3 linked regions of the Homo sapiens genome follow. The protein of the gene in region 3 purifies or fractionates together with the protein of the main gene of each other region. This does not show direct contact. Each region holds a gene or a part of one and is shown on either strand. Other genes may lie near its edges.

Evidence for each region.
Region 1: the proteins of NELFA (region 3) and INTS12 purify together in Homo sapiens (affinity purification with mass spectrometry; one large-scale study listed by BioGRID and IntAct). This does not show direct contact.
Region 2: the proteins of NELFA (region 3) and SEM1 purify together in Homo sapiens (co-immunoprecipitation; one large-scale study listed by IntAct). This does not show direct contact.

Annotation. Positions count from the first base shown.
Region 1 is NC_000004.12:105,682,051-105,684,773, forward strand, and holds the end of INTS12 (integrator complex subunit 12), read right to left. Parts: intron 1,268-2,723; coding exon 683-1,267; 3' UTR 577-682; downstream 1-576. UniProt on the Homo sapiens protein: Component of the integrator complex, a multiprotein complex that terminates RNA polymerase II (Pol II) transcription in the promoter-proximal region of genes.
Region 2 is NC_000007.14:96,688,128-96,690,580, forward strand, and holds the end of SEM1 (26S proteasome complex subunit SEM1), read right to left. Parts: intron 840-2,453; coding exon 797-839; 3' UTR 635-796; downstream 1-634. UniProt on the Homo sapiens protein: Component of the 26S proteasome, a multiprotein complex involved in the ATP-dependent degradation of ubiquitinated proteins.
Region 3 is NC_000004.12:1,984,958-1,988,617, forward strand, and holds part of NELFA (negative elongation factor A), read right to left. Parts: intron 3,051-3,660; coding exon 2,961-3,050; intron 1,521-2,960; exon of another isoform or gene 1,446-1,520; coding exon 1,315-1,445; intron 1,227-1,314; coding exon 1,157-1,226; intron 908-1,156; coding exon 819-907; intron 1-818. UniProt on the Homo sapiens protein: Essential component of the NELF complex, a complex that negatively regulates the elongation of transcription by RNA polymerase II.

The sequences.
Region 1 (2,723 bases), about 100 Mb from region 3:
TGTATTACATTGGCAATGTAGGAAAAGTGAGCAATGTGAGAAAAAATATTGTATTAAGCACCAGGAGAGTTCACAATTTATTGGAAAAAGATATACCCTTAAATAATTGAAATGAGGTGATAAAAAAGGTAAAGATATAATATGAAGTATGATAAATCAATTAGGAAAATCCATTGATATGAGAAATCAATAATGAAAAAATAATTTTGAAAAAGATGAAATAATTGGGAGGGAGAGGGAGAGTCAGTTGAAATGGGGCTAGCACAGAAAATGAACACCCAGAATACGGGGAGGAAAATAGAAAACTATGTTGGGTCGTCCCTGCCGCCACATAAGGCACCTCATTCATCAGGATCAACTCTTGGGGCTTTGCTAGAAGATGAACTATTTCTTTTTCCTTAAATTCACAGATGCTTTCAATCTTCTGAAGATCTCATTGAGAACCAGTCATTCTAATCATTGTTTTCACACACTATGGAAATCATTAGAATAAAAATGTTGAAGATTGATTTAAAATGAAAGTTTCCAAGTTTTGTTATATAATATTTAGCATTTTAAGGTAAGAAACAATAGAAATTTGATTATGAAGACTTTTATTAAATTACAGTGTATTACAGATTATATCATAATAATAAGCCTTTCATCTTTAGGCTAATATGATACAAAAACCTACTTGGCCACATTACTTCTTGAGTTTCTTTTGGGCAGCTTTCTTCTTGACCATCTGTAATCGCTTCATAGCATTGAGCTGTGATTCTTGTGAAGTTGGGCCTTTAAGGGATGCTGAGGGAGAGCTGCTGGATTCTGAAGTAGTTTTGCTGGTAGTACTTCCACTAGGTCCTGATGTTCCACTATTTCCATTCCCACTTAGTTGGCTGCTGCTTCCTGGAACTAAACTACTTGGACTAGGAAGACCTACTTTGCTGACATTGTCACAACTAACTGAGCGACTAAGGCCAGTTTTACCCAAGGTTAGAGGTGGAGGTGGTTTTAAAGGTACAGTGGGCGTAGTGCTGTTATTGGAACCTATTTTGGAACCTATTCCACCTTTGGATGATGTTGCCAGACCAGTCAAACCCACAGGTTTCTGGTTAGCTGACGAAGTAGCAGGTTTCCCAGTATTGTTTTGTGTTGTTGAACTCAATTTTGCTGTTGAAGGACCAGCAGAGGAAGTTTTGGCTGCAAAAGCTGCCCATCCAGTTAAGCCACTAGTTACTGACGAGGAAACGCTGGCACTAGAAGAATTTCCTGAAATAACTGTGGATGTCTAAAAAAATAAAGTAAATAATTACATTAGAGCCAAGTTTAATCAGTACCTGTATAAACATCCCAAGTTATGAATTGGGAAATTTAAATCACACCACCAAATTAGGTTCTTATGAAGCTGATCTGAAAAACCACACAGAACAAAACTTATCTGTATCTAGTGGGTATTATCATTTGCAAAGCAGAAAATTTTTGATACCATATTCTTGTTCTAATGATTCCAAAAGAAAATATATGAAATTCCTTTTTGGGAATTGCTTTTAGATTCAATTCTAAGCTATATCTGAAAACCAGATTTAGTGCTTTAACATAGTTTTTACCCAACAAAGTATTATCGACCTTAGTTAAACATCTAATTCTTTTAGACTTTTCTCCAAATAACTAGGGATCATTTCAAAAATTTAATTCACTCTTAATAGCAAAAATGCCCATACCCAGAATATTCAGGAGAACATATCCAAGATGAAGAGATTCAGTCAATATTTATTTACTGAGTGACTGTGTGAGAGAAAGAAGACAGCTGTATAGATTCTAAACCCATTAAAAAAAAATGTCCTCCTAAATTTTGAGCAACAGTTACAGGAGTACAAAATATATGCAAAGTTAATTACTTGGAAGTGTACAATTTTTATGATGTGTTAAAAAGTTCTCATGATTTTAGTTTCACAATTTGCCCATGATTCCGGTTAAACTATCATGTAAGAGTCTCCTGCTCCTTTAATAAGGATTTTATCAATTGCCTCATTAGGCTGCACAGTGACATTTTGGGTAGGACTGATCTCATTCTCTGATATATTTCATAAGGGTATAACACTTCAACTTCTCTGATTAACTTTCCTGGCTAATCAGAAGCTCACAATGGTACCAATGCCACTATATAAATACATATTGCTCTTGTTCACACAAGAATATATTTTTTCACTTTCATATTAGGCACAAATGTACGTATTCAAATTAATTTTGAATTGAACTTCTTATTGACACCTTTTCTACCTTTATACTCTTAAGAAGATTCACAAAAGCATTACATTCACATATAGGTAAAAGATAAAATTTTACAAAATAACATCCTACTTAAAAAATGGTAGTTATTATACCTAAAATATATCCAGTTATAATTTAGAACTTTACTCTGAAATAGTTGATAAAACATTTTTAGCTCTTGAAATCAAGGTAGCCTTCAATATTGTCTGCATGCATACATTTTTAATCAATGTGAAAAGTAACAAAAATAGAGTTCTGAGATATTCGATTTATAAGAGAAGGAATCCAGATATTTGTCCACATACTCTGAAAATTGATAGGAAGTTTTCTTACAGTAACATATTAACTATCTTATGAAGTTATCCAGAGAAGAAAAACTACATAAACCATTTATTCCTAGAGGAATATATACCAGCAATGAGAGAAAAAGTTAGTCAAGAAGTAAACCTTTAATTTTCAGTTATGAAAGACCT
Region 2 (2,453 bases), on a different chromosome or scaffold from region 3:
CACAAAGAATCCTTTACAAACCAAATTAAATCTCCCATTCACAAAAGTGATGTGGCAACAGCTATCACTCTGTGAAAACTCAGTTGTACTAAATGAGCCTGCTATGTAGTACCTGAAAATATGCACTTGTTGATAAAGTATCTTGAGCCCACTTCCTCAATTTTAATAGAAGACACCATTCTTACTGTGATTAAACTACTTTGGACTTTAAGTACCAATAATACGCTAACAACCATTAATAATATTATTAATGGCTCAGGAACTAAGTAAATTACAGCAATTTAAAATGATTAATATTTTTAAAACACAGGTTTTGAAAGGTCACCTTATAAATGTCAGCAAATGTTGCCTAAGCTATCAAAATACAGAAGAGATTAAGGTTCAATGTGATGTAAAAGAAATTCCTTATAAAATAGAAGTAACAATTAATTGATGTGGTTTAAGAAAAGTACTGAATTGGGAATCAGGTGAAATCTACTCCAGATCATTTAACCTGAGCCTCACTCAGTTAACATTAAAAAAAAAAAAGAAAATTTCATAATATGAAATTTTACTATCTATATATAATAAGGTTTTGGAAAATCATGACAAGAAAATTGATTAGAAGCAAAAGATTAAGACTTCTGAACCAAACCAAGATTATATCAAAACATTTATTTTTTGTGTTACAAAAACACAAATAAATCCAAGCAGATAATGAAATAAACACATTTTTTTAGTGTCCCATCCTGGGTTCTCTGCCCTAGAATGTATTAAGCAGGTCAAGTTTAGGTTACTTCAACACTTCTTCTGGATGCTATGAAGTCTCCATCTTATAACCATGTTTCTCTAGTTCAGCTCTAAGATAAAACAGAAAGAACATCACTAGGTATTCTTTATAATAAACATTCTTTTAGAAACAATACAATAAATAAACAAATAAATGAGCTATGCCTGAGACATCAATTTACAATACCACTGAATAGTTTTACTTTTGTCTCTGAAAAAAAAACATAAGAAAATTGGATATGAGTCAATATAATACTATAAAATTTTGTTTTTCCCATTATTTAACTTGTATTTTATCTTCCTTAATTTTCTTATAAGTCTATTTGTGGAAGAAATGTGAGGGACTTACTGCTATCCTTCAAATACTTTCCAAATGCTATATGAATGTTCTGTTCCTAATAAATATTTAAACATAAGTTTTGAGACTCATTAACCTCAGGCAAAGTACACATCACTATCAAACCTTTAGGGATTTTACAATGATCATAACAGGTATTACTATATTACTGTTGTATATGCAGAAAGAATAAACAGATTGCTTTCCATATTGACATATATGTATTGCTCTAACCTTATTTGCCACAATTCAAAGTTTATGACAAAATTAGTAGATGGCTAATCCATGATAAAACACTGAGTAAACTTAAAGTATGATTAATATGCTTTACATCATTACATCCAATAAGATAGACATTTGTTCTCAAGTAAATTTGGCTTAGACACCACTACACTATTCCAATGCAAACACATGACCGGAATAATGTATAGTATTTAGCATTCATTTCTCAAAACTCCTTTGCTTTCCTAAAATTTTTAGTTATTTAGAATACAAATAGTGAGCTAATTTCCATAAATTATATCAAGGCCACAGATTGTTCAAATGAATCATCCTTGTCTTCTGCTATGGGGTGGTGGTATAAACCCTGGATTAGGAGTCAAGACTCCAGTGCAAGACTCTGACTCTGGCCCTTCCTTTGCTAACTAATTTGCTTCCTTTGGGCCCTTCCCCTGCCCCTCAGGAAACTGGAGATTATAGTATCTGCCCTTCATTTATAACAACTTATCTCCATTGTTTTGAGAGCTAAATGAGAGAAAGTTATACAAATGTAATGTAGTATACATTAAAATAAGAGTCAAGGCTGAAAGGAAAAGCTAAAAGATTCTGATGATCACAGAAAACTCAAATGTTTCATACAAAAACTCTTGCTGCCAATCTTGAGGGAATGTGGTAACTGTCTTTGAATTTTATCTCATGTTAAAATTTTATAATTTATTTAAAATAAAAGTAATTTTACAACTTTCTTAAACCTTAGTTTTCTACTCTGTAGAATATTCACTTTAACAGCAGCAACAAAAACAATGAACAAAAAAACCCCAAAGTTCAACCTACAATTTAAGTAACAAGTATACCAAATCTGTCCTTCAGGTTTGTGTCTATTGGCTTTCCTAATGGGAGGTGGCTGGTCACTAACTGCATGTATAAATTGTTTACAATCACAAACAAGATGATGAAATGCTCTTCTATCAGCTAAATTCTTAGAAAAGATGAAAAATTCTTTGCTAGAATTTAAAAAACCAAAAGAAAAAAATTGAGGCCACCAAGTACAAAACAAAAACACTAATAATCATGAGGCTGCTGAGTGGAAAAATCAACAAAGACAAAAATAGAAAACCTCAGCACAACT
Region 3 (3,660 bases):
ATGCTTCCGGCATGTGCTAACACATGGCCCGACCCGGAGCTCCACTGCCACAGGCTGTGGCCCCCCGAGCTAGAGCAGGAAGGCGGGGGCCACTCTCCCGAGCTCCCTGGGCTAGACAACGGGACCCCTGGCCCCTGGCGCCCCAGCAGAGTTGGGGACTGAGCCGCTCCTGTGTAGGAGAGGGGAGGGGTTGAGGAGCCCAAACAGCCCATCTTGAGCACAGAAGGAGCGATGCTTTTTCTTACCACGAAGCGTTGATATAAAGGAAGATGCTCATGTTAAGAAACACAGAACACGCAGCGGCGGGAAGAAAGGAGCTTATTATCCTGAAGTGACCCCACAGTGTGGCCTCCTCCAGGCCCTGGCCTCAGACGACCCACTGCAGCCTCTGTGCACCTGCCGCGCCCCGTGGCTGCCTCCCACCCGCAGGCAGGGCCTGGTCTCCGGGACACTGAGGCCTCTGACCACCCAGCACCCCCACAGGCCTGTCCTGCACCCATTCACGGCCACGTGCAAGGCTTAGGTCCCACCAGCCCTGCCTGACGGGACACTGAGGCACAGGGTTGAGGAGGACTCCCCTGGCAGCCCCTCCAGCAAGCGTGGGGCAGGTTCCCGCTCCAAGCCTGAGTCAGATGCCCATGTCAGGGCACGGCCCACACTGCCTCTCATGTACATATACGTATATATACATAAATACAGACTGCACACATATGTACATACATATATATATTCTCCGACAGAGCACACTAGTGGCCACAATCGGAACAAAAGGGGCACCCGCAGTGGTGCCAGACATGGGGTGCAGCCCCGAGCCCTACCTGCGTGGACACCAGGCCGGCTGCGTAGTCCGGGGTGGCGTTCTCCACCACCGTTTCCTCCTTGGCCGGCTTCTCCACCACCTCCGCATCTGTGGACAAAACAGGAGTCCTCGCCAGTGCCCGGGCGCGTCTGCAGTGTCAGCTCAGGGCAGCGGCAGGGAATCAAACAGCTTCCCAGGGGAGGCCACCAAGGAGCGAGGAGAAAAGCAGGCACCCACCCACGGAGAGCAGCCTCACGGGGCACAGCCCTGCCCGCCGAGCGTGGGCACAACCCACCCCAACTGGGCAGGGCCCGCAGGGACCCCCATTGCCGCCGACACGCAGGCCCCAACCCCCACCGAGAGTCTTCCTTCTCCGCTTCGCCTCTCGGCCAGCGCCAACCATATCCAGCTCAGAGATGTCCAGCAGCTGCCAAGACAAGCACAGCCCTGCCTTAGTGACGGCACCAGGGCGCAACGGGCCCCGGGGTGCCACAGGAGCTGGGGGACGGGCCTACCTTCACACCTCGTTCCTTCCGCAGCAGCGTCCTGGAAGGCGGGATGGGGGTCCGGTTCCCTGTGGGGCTGAAGACGCTGGGCGCCGTGGGGCTTCTGAAGGGCGCCTGCTTCGGGATGCCTTTGAGTGGGGCTGGAGGACGGCAACAGTCAGGGCGCCAGCAGCAGTGACCGGCAAACGTCCCCCACCCCGAGCTCAGAACGTCCCACCCTCTTCTAGGCTAGCGCCGCAGAGGGGAAGGGCCAAACCCCTGGCGGGCAGCGGGCAGGACCCCCAGGATCCCGGACCTCAAGGAGCAGGGGAACGCCTGGAGCCACGACCTCACACTTTGCCAAGACACCAAACAAAGACAGCGGCACCCCAGCCCAGCCACAGGATCTCACCAGGTGGAGTCTCTCACCAGTGTGGCGGGGGCTGAGCTCTGCCTCCTTCCTGTGCCTCCACCGGCAGGGGCATGAAGCCAGGCGCCTGGGCTTGAGGGCCGCCCTCCCAAGCCTTCTCCCCGTCCCCTGAGGACACTCCTGAGGCCTACCTACGCTGTTACCCACCAGCGCCCACACGCACCCTCCAAGGCGTGCGTGGCTCTCATGGTGCCAGGCCCGGAGAGAGGACGCCCGGGGGATGGTGCCATCAGCACACCGGGCCAGGCTGGACACACTGCTCAACGGCTGGCCCACCCTCCCTGGGCCAGCAGGTGCAGCCCTGGCCCTGGGATGCCTGGTGGGGGTGGAAAGACAAGGGTCTGCTCCAGGCGGGGTAGAGGAGAGCAAGGTGGAACCTCGGCTGCGGTGGGCAGGAACATGACCCAGGGACGGCCCCCCACACAGCGACAATAGTCAGCAGACCCAAGATGCCTTCTACTAGGTCCCATGTGAACACTGTGGGATTATGGGAGCCCAAATAAACTAAGCCAGGCTGGTCTGGGAGCTGCATGGAGAGCGCCTGTAAGGCTGCCCTTTCAGCCCCACCCATCTGCAAGTTTACCCAGCTGTCTCAGCACAGGACGACACCCGTCCTGCCCTCTGGCCCCCAGGTCACTATCCAGCACCCTCTGGGGTGAGTATGCCCTGCCATGGTTCCCAGGGGCACGCCGTCTTCCTGTGATCAGGGTGCATCCTGCTTAAGCTCACGCCCAGCCCTGAGAGCACAAATCAGGAAGGGCAGATGGAGGGGTGCGGGGGGCACAGCCCCACGGGCAGCTGAGCACGGTCACGTCCTCCCCGCGGAGCCGCCCAGGGACACTCGGAACCCAAGAGCAGCACTTGGGGCCGAAAGCCCGAGCTGGGAAGGCCGAGAGCCACCGGTGCCAACAGCAGAGGAGCAGGGGCCAGCACTGTCCTCAGATCCCGGCCTTCCTGTCTCCATGCCCAGCGGTGTCCTCAGATCCCGGCCTTCCTGTCTCCGTGCCCAGCACTGTCCTCAGATCCCGGCCCTCCTGTCTCCGTGCCCACACATCCTCCCAGGGAGCTCCCCAAGGGGAGAAGCCGGTGAAATTGCCCCAGTGCCTTCGCTTTCCCACGGGCTCCCAACACTGCTGCCTGAAGACCATTCACAGGCACCACCTCCCCAACAGGGAGCGGGTCTCCAGGTGAAGCCCTTAGCTCTGCCCCAAAAGCAAGGCTCACGGCACCAGGGTGGGGGCCTTACTGGTGGTGTCCATCTTCCGCAGCAGCCCCCGGCCCTTGGCGTGGAAGGGCACCCCGGCGCTCCGCTTCAACTGCTGGGCGGTCTCCGTGGCTGGAAGGAAGAGGTCACATATGTCAGGGATCCTCAGAGCGAGAGCCCTTGGCCCTTGTAAAAACATCTCTGTCAAGTGGATTCATCCGACGGCCTGAGCCGTGAACGCTGCATTCTCTCTAAATGAGCAGCTGTTCCGAGCCGGGCCTGACACCAGCTCGCACTTTACAACGAGTCAGAAACTCACTCAGGTGAGCAAGTTTCGGGAGCTGGGTGGCTGTGGCTGCACCTCCCAGGACCCCATGGCAGGGGGGAGGCAGCCGAGGAGGAGCTGAGGGACCTCATGAGCCCTCTCCATCGACCCGGGCCTCCCCCTGGCCCAGTGGTAGCACCGTCCTCGCTGAGGGTCAGCAGGCACGGTCTAGATACAAAAATATGAGGAAGAAACAAACGAAGAGATATTCCTGACTTGGTTCAGTGTGGCTGAAGGGTCAGGGGACACCGAGTGCCCAAAGCAGACCCTGTGGCCACTGCTGGCCTCCAAAGGGGGTGGGGCCCAAGGGGCCAGCAGAGTCCTTCCTGGGCTACCCAGTGGGCCCGGGGCTGCACGGAGCCTCCCGGACAGCGCTGGGCCCTGGCTGCTGCCCGTTCCAGCCAAGATCCATGCACA